Homo sapiens: one gene and its partners. The protein of the gene in region 1 purifies or fractionates together with the protein of each later gene. This does not show direct contact. Each region holds a gene or a part of one and is shown on either strand. Other genes may lie near its edges. The genes, in order: LMLN, PRSS53 and NLN.

What was found.
Region 2: the proteins of LMLN (region 1) and PRSS53 purify together in Homo sapiens (affinity purification with mass spectrometry; one large-scale study listed by BioGRID and IntAct). This does not show direct contact.
Region 3: the proteins of LMLN (region 1) and NLN purify together in Homo sapiens (affinity purification with mass spectrometry; one large-scale study listed by BioGRID and IntAct). This does not show direct contact.

Annotation. Positions count from the first base shown.
Region 1 is NC_000003.12:197,970,103-197,973,752, forward strand, and holds part of LMLN (leishmanolysin-like peptidase isoform 1 precursor), read left to right. Parts: intron 1-3,650. UniProt on the Homo sapiens protein: Metalloprotease.
Region 2 is NC_000016.10:31,086,702-31,090,451, reverse strand, and holds the start of PRSS53 (serine protease 53 precursor), read left to right. Parts: upstream 1-1,508; 5' UTR 1,509-1,642; coding exon 1,643-1,700; intron 1,701-2,625; coding exon 2,626-2,646; intron 2,647-2,752; coding exon 2,753-2,915; intron 2,916-3,553; coding exon 3,554-3,750. UniProt on the Homo sapiens protein: In vitro can degrade the fibrinogen alpha chain of as well as pro-urokinase-type plasminogen activator.
Region 3 is NC_000005.10:65,809,136-65,812,785, forward strand, and holds part of NLN (neurolysin, mitochondrial), read left to right. Parts: intron 1-379; coding exon 380-566; intron 567-901; coding exon 902-1,030; intron 1,031-3,119; coding exon 3,120-3,256; intron 3,257-3,650. UniProt on the Homo sapiens protein: Hydrolyzes oligopeptides such as neurotensin, bradykinin and dynorphin A. Acts as a regulator of cannabinoid signaling pathway by mediating degradation of hemopressin, an antagonist peptide of the cannabinoid receptor CNR1.

The DNA of each region.
Region 1 (3,650 bases):
GATTGTACCACTGCACTCCAGCCTGGGCAATAGAGAGAGACTGTCTCAAAAAAACCCAAAATAAATAAATAAAATAAATAAAAAAAATAAACTTCACAATTAAAAATTTTACAATTTTTGCTTTAAATATTTATTTGTCTCCAAAGAAATTAACAGAAGAAAAGAAGTGTGTATAATTGTGTTGAGGATTCCCAAGACCACTCCAGGTTTGGTGATTGCTAGGTGGCCTCGCTAGATTCAGCTTGTCGTCATACTCACAGCTGAGATTTATTACAGTGAAGGCATACAAAGTAAAATCAGCAAAGGGAAAAGGATCATGGGACAAAGACTAGAGGAAATTAGGCAAAAACTTCCAAGAGTCCTCTCCTAGTAGAGTCACTTAGGACCTGCTTAATTCCTTCAGCAGTGAGTTGTGACAGCGTGCACAAAGTGTGGTCTACCAGGGAAGATTACCTGATTCTTAGAGTCCAGGGTTTTTATTGGAGGCTGGTCACGTAGACAAAATTTCAGCCACTGAAATTTCAGACTCCAGAAGCAAGCAAATGTTCAACATAAACCATATTGTTTCTGCAAATAGTTTAGACACAATGAGCCATCCTTATAACCTAGTGAAGTTTTAAATTACACTTCTAGATGCCAGCAAAAGGTCAACCTTGCAAGCAGGACTTCCTACAGAGAGCAGCAATCTCTGACCTGCTGTGTTGACTCTTCTGCACAATAGTCTTTCATATCTATTCACGTATTTACCATTTCCAATAGCTTTTATTTCTTCCTACAGAAACAGGTTACCCTTTTGTGTTATTTCCATTCCCACGAATAACTTCTTTTAGCATTTCCTGTAGTGTAGGTCTGCTGGTGATCAGTTTTCTCAGATGTATGTGAAATGTCTTTATTTCCTCTTCATTTTTGAAGGGTACTTTCATTGGATATAGACTTCTGTGTTGAATTTCTTTATTTTAGCCCTTTCCTGTTTATTTCATTGTCTTCTGTTCTTTATTGTTCTTCACAGAAAGTCAATGCCATTCGTACTTCTCTTCCCTTCCTATGTATAATGTTGTATTAGTTCTCACACTGCTATAAAGATACTACCTGAGACTGGGTAATTTATAAAGGAAAGTGGTTTACAGTTCCACATGGCTGGGGAGGCCTCAGGAAACTTACAATCATGGTGGAAGATGAAGGAGAAGCAAGGACCTTCTTTACATGGTGGCAGGAGAGAGAAGTACAAGCAGGGGAAATGCCAGAGGCTTGCTTATAAAACCATCAGATCTTGTGAGAACTCACTATCATGAGAACAGCATGGGGAAACACCCCCATGATCCAGTCACCTCCTTCCCTTGACATGTGGGATTACAATTTAAGATGCAATTTGGCTGGGGATGCAGAGCCAAACCATATAAAATGTGTTGTTTTTCTCTCATTGCTTTCAATATTTTATCTTTATTTTTAGATGTCACAAGTTTGCCTATGATGTACCTGGTTGTTGTTTGTTTGTTTTTGGGGACAAAGTCTCACTCTGTTGCCCAGGCTGGAGTGCAGTGGCACGATCTTGGCTCACTGAAACCTCCGCCTCCCGGGTTCAAGTGATTCTCATGCCTCAGCTTCCTGAGGAGCTGGGATTACAGGCATGAACCACCACGCCCAGCCTTGTTTGTTTTTTATCCTGCTTGAGGTTTAGTGAACTTCTTGGATCTGTAAGTTGATGTCTTTCACCAAATTTGAAATTTTTTAGCTGTTATTTCTTTCAAATATATATTCTGTCTCATATTTTCTCCTGTCCTTATAGGACTCTAATTACCTATCTGCTAGACTGCTTGGTACCCATTCTCTGAGTCTCTGTTCTTTTTTTTTTTTTTTTTTTTTTTTAGTCTTTTTCATTTCTCTTCTTCGGATTGGATAATGTCTAGATCTATCTTCAAGTTCACTGATGCTTCTGCCATCTCCAATCTTCTTTTAATTCTTTCTAGTGAATTTTTTTTTTTGAGACTGTCTTGCTCTGTCACCCAGGCTGTAGGGTGATGGTGCAGTCTTGGCTCACTGCAACCACCGTCTCCCGAGTTCAAGCAGTTCTCCTGCCTCAGCCTCTGGAGTGCTGGGATTACAGGTGTGCACCACCACGCCTGGCTAATTTTTGTATTTTTAGTGGAGACAGGGTCTCACCATGTTGGCCAGGCTGGTCTGGAACTCCTGACCTCAAGTGATCCACCCACCTCAGCCTCCCAAAGTGCTGGGATTACAGGCATGAGCCACCGTGTCCGGCCCCAATGAATTTTTCATTTTAATTGTTATACTTTTAAGCTCTAGAATTTCCATTTGGCTCTTTTTTCTTTGGTTCTTTTCATAGTGTCTCTTCTGAGGTTCACTATCTGCTTACTCATTATGTGTATGTTTTCTTTTAAGTTCCTGAACACATTTCAGCTGCATTAAACTAGTTGTTTAAATTCAGGTCCTCTTAGGGTCTGTTTCTATTCCCTGCTTTTTCCCCCATTGTGGATCTCATTTTCCCATTTTGTTCTCATTGCTGCTGATTTTTTATTAAATAATGGACACCATAGATAATATATTGTAAAGTCTGGATTCTGTTGTATTTCTCTGAATAATTTTTTTTTTTTTGTAGCTGGCGTTTAACTTAACTGTATTCAAAATTCCAAACTCTTATCTCCTGTTGTTGGCAACATTTATTCTTTGCTGGGTTTTATCGCATACATATGTAATTTCGTTGTCAGCCAAGGAATTTAGTGGTCAGTCAAATATTTGACTGGGTTTCATATGCAGATTTTGGGGTACCTTCTGTGGCTTCTTCTCTTGCAAGATTTCCTCTCTAACTTCTAATTTTCTGGTGATACAAGTTCTGAACATTTTGCTGTAGCTCCTCAAGCCAGTGAGGCTCTGACTTCCTGCCACTCCAAGAGACACAGATTAGGTAGTGCTCTCAAGCCAAAGTTAGACTTGCAAATCTCAGAGATACAATTCCTGTATTCCAAGAGTAGATTCTTCCAGATTCTGTCTTTCTCCCTCCCCAAAATACTGTCAGACAGTATATTTTGTCCGGACTTTGTAATGTGTTATCTGTGGGGAGGTTAGTCATGTAATGGATTGCTAAAATGTACCATATCCATTTGCTGTGCTCAGACATTTCTGATTTTTTTTTTTTTTTGAGACGGAGTCTTGCTCTGTTGCCCAGGCTGGAGTGCAGTGACAAAATCTCGGCTCACTGCAAGCTCCACCTCCTGGGTTCTAGCAATTCTCCTGCCTCACCCTCCCAAGTAGCTGGGACTACAGGCGCCTGCCACCATGCCCGGCTAATTTTTTTGTATTTTTAGTAGAGATGGGGTTTCACCATGTTAGCCAGGATGGTCTCAGTCTCCTGACCTTGTGATCTGCCTGCCTCGGCCTCCCAAAGTCCCAAAGTGCTGGGATTACAGGCGTGAGCCACCGTGTCTGGCCTCTGATGGTTTTTTAAGGGCCATAAAATAATCTGTTACCTGGAGATAGGTTGGAATGGAATGAGTAAAATACTGGAAGTAGGGTGTCAGGCCATCATAGCAGAGCAGGCAATACGTATTGTGAAAATCTGTGACTGTTACTATGTTATATTAATAGATCAAACGTAGTTTTCTACAAAATATAGAATTCTGTTTTCTTGTATA
Region 2 (3,750 bases), on another chromosome or scaffold:
GAAGGTTTTTGTTTTGCCTATTATGCCCTGACCACTTACCTACATGCCAAGCACTGTTTAAGAACTTGTGTTGGCAGGGTGCAGTGGCTCACACCTGTAATCCCTGTACTTTGGGAGGCCAAGGCAGGAGGATCACTTGAGGCCAGGAGTTCCAGACCAGCCTGGGCAAAATAGTGAGACCCCTGTCTCTACAAAAAAAAAAAAAAAAAAAAATTAGCCAGGCATGGTGGTGTATGTACCTATAGTCCCAACTAATCGGGAAGCTGGCGGGAAGACTGCTTGAGCCCAGAAGGTTGAGGCTGCAGTGAGCCATGATCACTGCACTCCAGCCTGAGCAACAGAGCAAGACCGTCTCCAAAAAAAAACAAAAAACAAAAAAAAACTTGTGTTAACGTGTTAAACTCGTTTAATCTTTACAGTGATTTATGAGGTGGGTACTATTATTATCCCTATCTTGATGATAGGGACAGAGTGGCTAATTAGTATGCCTGAGATCACACAGCTACTGCAGGAGGCTCTCAGGATTTGAATCCACCTGGTCCATCTGGCTCCAGCATCTATATGCTTTTTTTTTTGTTGGTTTGTTTTTGAGACGGACTTTCGCTCTTGTTGTCCAGGCTGGAGTGCAATGGCACAATTTCGGCTCACCACAACCTCCACCTCCCAGGTTCAAGTGATTCTCCTGCCTCAGCCTCCCGAGTAGCTGGGATTACAGGCATGCGCCACCAGGCCTGGCTAATTTTGTATTTTTAGTAGAGACAGTGTTTCTCTATGTTGGTCAGGCTGGTCTCGCACTCCCGACCTCAGGTGATCTGCCTGCTTTGGCCTCCCAAAGTGCTGGGATTACAGGCGTGAGCCACCATGCCCGGCCAGCATCTATAATATATGCTAAACCTTACCCACAGCTGCCTCTGTCTTGGGGTCAGGGTTCTTGAATGGTCTGGGCCAGCCTGAGTTAGGAGTGGGAAGAGGAAGAGGAGGCACGCGCCAAAGTGTTCTTCCCGCCTGACCGAGTCCTCTGCGCCTATGAGGAAGGTGGGCACCGCTGTCACCCTGTTTCCCAGGAAGCCAGCAGGCCCAGGGAGATACTGGGATTTGCCAAAGGCTCACAGCGAGCAAGCAGCAGTGGGTGCTGGCTCCTCACCACTCAGCCTGGCACACACTGTCTCTGAGCAGACCTGGGAGAAGGCATGTGAAACCCACCTAGCCCTGGCTGGAAGAGAAGTGGGGGAGTGGAAATGAAAAGTGGGGACTGGGAGGAGCTGCCCACGTGCCCTCCATGGTTCCAGGATGGCACTTTCATGCTGGGAGTGAGCTTGCCCTGTGCCAGGCTGTCATTGAGACGTTTTCCATTCAACAACTGTTTCTCAGACAAGGCACAGGCAGGTTAGCTCTCCCAGGCCACTCAAGTAGTAAGGAAACAGATTTAAACCCAGACAATTTGGCTCCACGGCTAAGGCCCAGAGAGGGGTGGTGACAAGCCTAGGGTCACACAGCCACAGCCCCAGAGCTAGGAACTGCTGGCTAGGGCAAGCAGACAGCTGAATCCTAGCCAACTGGAGGTGGAGCAGAGGTGGAGCCAGGGAGACCCAGGTGGCCTCTCTCAGAGTGGAGCACAGGTGGCAGAGTGGCCCGGGGCAGCATGAAGTGGTGCTGGGGCCCAGTGCTGCTCATCGCGGGTGCCACAGTCCTCATGGAGGGTAAGCCGCCATGTGCTGGGGTATGGGTGTGGCCTGGTGGGGGCTCAGGGGCCATCTCTGCCCCAGCAGTCCCTGCTTCTTGGTGGGGGGACCGCCTGTGGGCGACAGTCCACCAGTGGGGATGTAACTCCGTAGGACTCTGTGGGGTGGTATATGTGGCCACCTGTGTCAACATGGATGAGATTTTCTCGGGCCAGCTGCAGTTTGCGTTGGCGGGGCCTGTGGTCTTGTGTGTGTGTGAGGTGCTGCCTGCGTGTGTCCTGTGCCTGCCTCCCCCTCGACTTCCACAATGACGTCAGGCAAACTCTGGGCTCCTCTGGCCTCAGTTTCCCTTTCTTTTCATCCATCCTCTGGGCAGCCTGGCTCAGCTGTCTCATGGGGTGCCTGTGTGCCTGTGAGGGGCGGTGGGCAGGGGCCCTCTCTCTGGCGGGCTCTCAGACAGTTTCTGGGAAGGTGGGGAAGACTGAGTCTCTAGACCAGGGTGAGGTAAGTCTCCATTTCTTGGGGCCCTCCCCACTTGGAAATGATGCAGGCCTCTAATCCTTCCTCTTAGGCCTCTGCTGCTAAGAGGACAATTAAGCTAATGCTCTCTACACACACAGGCCGCCTGGCTGACTCAGTGGCGGGGGCAGGAGTTGGGGGTTCTGAAGCCTGGAGGAGGGCTGGCCTACTCCCAAGCTGAACCCCAAGCCCCAGAGTGCTGAGCACAGCTGAAGGAGAATTAATTACTGAGTGTGCACACTGAATAGGTTCCAATAAAAGCTGTCTCGGCCTCATATAAATATTTTCATTCTGGGAGGGGCTGGTAAGGTAATCAGAGTCACAGGCAAGGACCCTGGGCCCGCCCCCCAGCCCATCCCCTCTCCTCCCCAAAGCTAGGCAGGCCTGGAGTCCCTGCATCTTACCTGTGTCTCTCTCTTCCCAGGTCTTCAAGCCGCTCAGCGTGGTAAGGTCTGGGGACACGGGGCCTAGGTCTTACTTGGGTCTGGGTTGGGACTGGGGTGAGGTCAGGACAGGTATCTGCTGTCAGTGTGACTAACTCCTTTCCACAGCCTGTGGACAGCGTGGCCCCGGCCCCCCCAAGCCTCAGGAGGGCAACACAGTCCCTGGCGAGTGGCCCTGGCAGGCCAGTGTGAGGAGGCAAGGAGCCCACATCTGCAGCGGCTCCCTGGTGGCAGACACCTGGGTCCTCACTGCTGCCCACTGCTTTGAAAAGTAAGTCATGGCTGGGGTCAGGCAGGGTCTCCGGCTCTGGGGAGTGGACAATTTGTCTCAAGCCCCACAAGGCTAGTCCCTGCCTCTAGAGTAATAATAAAGAACCATTTACTGAGAATCTGCCATGTACTGGGTACATATTGTCAAGTTAATTGTAACAACCACCTTTCATGGTAGAAGATTTACAAATCAGAAAACTCAGGTTGCAAGGGAATGACCTCGCTTAAAGTCACAGACTGAGGCCGGGCACAGTAGCTCACGCTTGTAATCCCAGCCCTTTGGGAGGCCACGGAGGGAGGATCGCTTGAGCCCAAGAGTTCAAGACTAGCCTGTGCAACATAGCAAGACCATGTCTCTACAAAAACTGTAAAATTAGCCAGGCATGGTGGTGCACGCCTGTAGTCCCAGCTACTCACGAGGCTGAGGTGGGAGGATCGCTTGAGCCTGGGAGGTCAAGGCTTGTAGTGAGTCATGGTCATGCCACTGCACTGCAGCCTGGGCGACAGGACGAGACCCTACCTCAAAAAGAAAAAGCCGTGGAGTGCTCTCTGCTATCTTCCACCTACCTGTGGGGTCTCCCATGGTGTCACTGTCTACCCTTGCACTCAGCAGCCTGGACCTTGTCCTTCCCCTTCCAGGGCAGCAGCAACAGAACTGAATTCCTGGTCAGTGGTCCTGGGTTCTCTGCAGCGTGAGGGACTCAGCCCTGGGGCCGAAGAGGTGGGGGTGGCTGCCCTGCAGTTGCCCAGGGCCTATAACCACTACAGCCAGGGCTCAGACCTGGCCCTGCTGCAGCTCGCCCACCCCACGACCCACACACCCCTCTGCCTGCCCC
Region 3 (3,650 bases), on another chromosome or scaffold:
AGAAATTGCTTGTTTAATGGATCTCTTCATTTTTAATGGAAAATTCTTTAAAAATACTTCTGCTTTCAAAGCTTAAGGCTTGTTTTTAGCTTAGACTGATTGTATTTTTCAGTTCTGGTTTTCTGATGATTGTTCCAACTTTGTCTACAATTCAAAGGAATGAAATTACTACTGTAATATAGAGTATTTGGGGGTTGTTTTTCACACTGTTCAGCTGCTGTGTTTTATTTTCACTTGACTATGAGGTTATTCTAACCCCTCATTCAGAGGAACAGTTGAGTCTGATTCTGCCTTAAGTTTTCGTGACTCTTAATAATTATTCATTGCATATGTACTTTCATTGAGTTCTTTAAAAAAATTCTCTGTGTTTGCTTTCTAGACTGATTTTGCACGATTTAGCGGAACAAATGTGGAAACTGACTTTGTAGAGGTGCCATCGCAAATGCTTGAAAATTGGGTGTGGGACGTCGATTCCCTCCGAAGATTGTCAAAACATTATAAAGATGGAAGCCCTATTGCAGACGATCTGCTTGAAAAACTTGTTGCTTCTAGGCTGGTCAACACAGGTATGACTTCTAATTTTAAAAAGGAAAATAAATTAGAATCTCTTAATGTAGAATTGCTGTCACCTTCTTCTGTAGAACTTATTTTCATTTTAAGTGGTATCCCAACCGTGCTAGCATGAGGAGTGAAGAACATTAAATATATTGGAATAGGAAACCCCGGAATTTTGTCTGAGGCAAAAAACCACATCTCCTTTTAAATCTTAAGTAGAATGAGATGTCCTGCTCCCATTTTGTGAGTACTACTGGAATCTGTTTTTGGAATCTACAATCTTGTGATAATAAAACACACAGTTCTGTCTTCTTCAAAACATGCCCAAACATTCTTATGTTATTAGGTCTTCTGACCCTGCGCCAGATTGTTTTGAGCAAAGTTGATCAGTCTCTTCATACCAACACATCGCTGGATGCTGCAAGTGAATATGCCAAATACTGCTCAGAAATATTAGGAGTTGCAGCTACTCCAGGTATGTAACTACTATGAATTGAGTTCATTTCTCTGTGAAGCACAGGGCGTTCTCCTAACACTGCAGGGGAGATGGAGTTTGTCAGACAGATTACCTAATTGTTTCTGATTTCTGTAATCAGGCCATGACTTTCAGATAAGCATACTATGTCCTTATGAGTTATCCCGTCCAAATGCGCTTGAAGGAAAGGTGGCTCCAGATCTGCAGCATTTTAGTGTAATCAGGCATGAGCAGTTGGCCTCCGCCCCAGAGCTGGGAGAGCCATTCGTGTTGGCAGCACACTCTCAGCTCCTCCCTCCCTGTATGCATCATGACTTCCCTGTGATTTTCAGGAAGAAATTGGCAGAAGGGGAACTTTTTAAGTTTTTTTTCCTTTACATATAGTATTTTGTTTATTTTTTCCATCCCCTCAAGCATTTATCCTTTGTGTTACATACAGTCCACTTGCACTCTTTTAGTTATTTTTAAATGTACAATTAAATTATTATTGACTATAGTCATCCTGTTATGCTATCAAGAAGGAGCATTTTCAGGCCTGGCATGGTGGCTCACACCTGTAATCCCAGCACTTTGGGAGGCTGAGGCAGGAAGATCACTTGAGCTCGGGAGTTCGAGACCAGCCTAGGCAACATGGCAAAACCCGTCTCTACCAAAATACAAAAATTAGCCAGGTGTGGTGGTGTATACCTACAGTCCTAGCTACCCAGGGGGCTGAGTTGAGAGGATCACCTGAGCCTGGGGAGGTTAAGCCTGCAGCGAGCCATGATTGCACCACTGCACTCCAGCCTGGGTGACACAGTGAGACCCTGTCTCAAAAAAAATAAAGGGTATTTGGGGGGAGAAGCATGAACTTCACCTTGTTTCTGATTCTGAGATCAGTTAAAGCATTTGACTAGCAGTTTGTAATCTGAGATTTATGGGACTCATGCATGGGCGTGTTTATATTTGTATGTGTATGTTTTAAGCCAATATATAGTTGTGCTTTTATATGTAGTTGGTAAGGTGGATTTTTTTTCACCAAGGAAATTGTTATTAAAATGAGTCAGCCACATTTATAGAGAGAATAAAGATAAGAATGGTCCGTTGAGTCATTCTAGGCTCCCCACATAGTAAGCCATAGTGCACCTTTGTGTCACAAGCCTTTGTGTCGCAATTACATTTTTAAATGTACAATTAAATTATTATTGACTATAGCCATCCTGTTATGCTATCAAGAAGGGACATTTTTAGGCCTGGCATGGTGGCTCACGCCTGTAATCCAGCATTTTGGGAGGCTGAGGCGGGAAGATCACTTGAGCTCAGGATTTTTGACAAAATCCTATATAAAGTAGCCCTACAGGTAGATTGAATTGGTGAAAAGTTCTTTTTCAGGCAAGGCACGGTGACTCACGCCTGTAATCCCAACACTTTGGGAGACCGAGGCAGGCAGATAGATCACTTGAGGTCAGAAGTTTGAGACCAGCCTGACCAAAGTGGTGAAACCCTGTATCTACTAAAAAATATGAAAATTAGCCGGCGTGGTGGCATGCACCTGTAATCCGAGCTACTCAGGAGGCTGAGGCAGGAGAATCCCTTGAACCTGGGATGCTGAGGTTGCATTGAGCCGAGATCTCACCACTGTACTCCAGCTTGGGCAACAGAGTGAAACTCTGTCTCAAAAAAAAGTTCTTTTTCAGTAATTATCAACCTAAAATAAGTGCAATTCTGAGACATTTTAGATATAAAGAGGTGTGGCAAAGAGTAGGGTTAATATTATTTTTCAAAACACATACATGTTTAAGAGATAAGAAAGGACTGATTTCAGTTCTAAAACACTGAGCTATCTGGTGGGTGTGGACAAAGCCGCTGAAACTATCCTTAGGCATTCCAGAGCTTGGGGCCGAAACCAGCTCTGAGGTTGAGCCATTGATAGATGTTTATAAACATCTTGGCCAAGAGGACACATCAGCCCAAGGAGTACTAGAGGTGAGATCATGTCATTCATTCTCTCCTCCCACAGCTGGCCTCCTCAGAGGGAAACCTTAGCTAGCTGTTAACCTGATCATTAACGTTTGCTATCACATTGATTGAAATGTATCTTTTTTTAAAGGCACAAATATGCCAGCTACCTTTGGACATTTGGCAGGGGGATACGATGGCCAATATTATGGATATCTTTGGAGTGAAGTATTTTCCATGGATATGTTTTACAGCTGTTTTAAAAAAGAAGGGATAATGAATCCAGAGGTATAGTATTATTTTTCTCCTTTTATTAATTTTGTAGTTGCTCCCTCCCCTTTAACTCCTAGTGTAAAATATTGGTCACATCTAGATTTTACTGTAAGAGGCTTGGTAACAGCTTTTACCTCTGAGGCCCTGCATCTTTCAAATCATCATACATCATTAAGTTGCAGTATACAAGTGATTAATTCTATAGTTTAAAAAAAACTAGTATATTTTCTTGCTTATTAACATTCTGATATATTACATAATTAAAAATTCAAAGCTTTGTTTATGGATTTGAGAATCTGTAGCTGCTAGTTTTGACATGTACCATACAACATTTTAGTTTTATAGGAGGTTGGGAAAGAAAGGTAAACTCCTTCCTGATGTAAATGGTTTCCCTGTGTTTTGATATTCT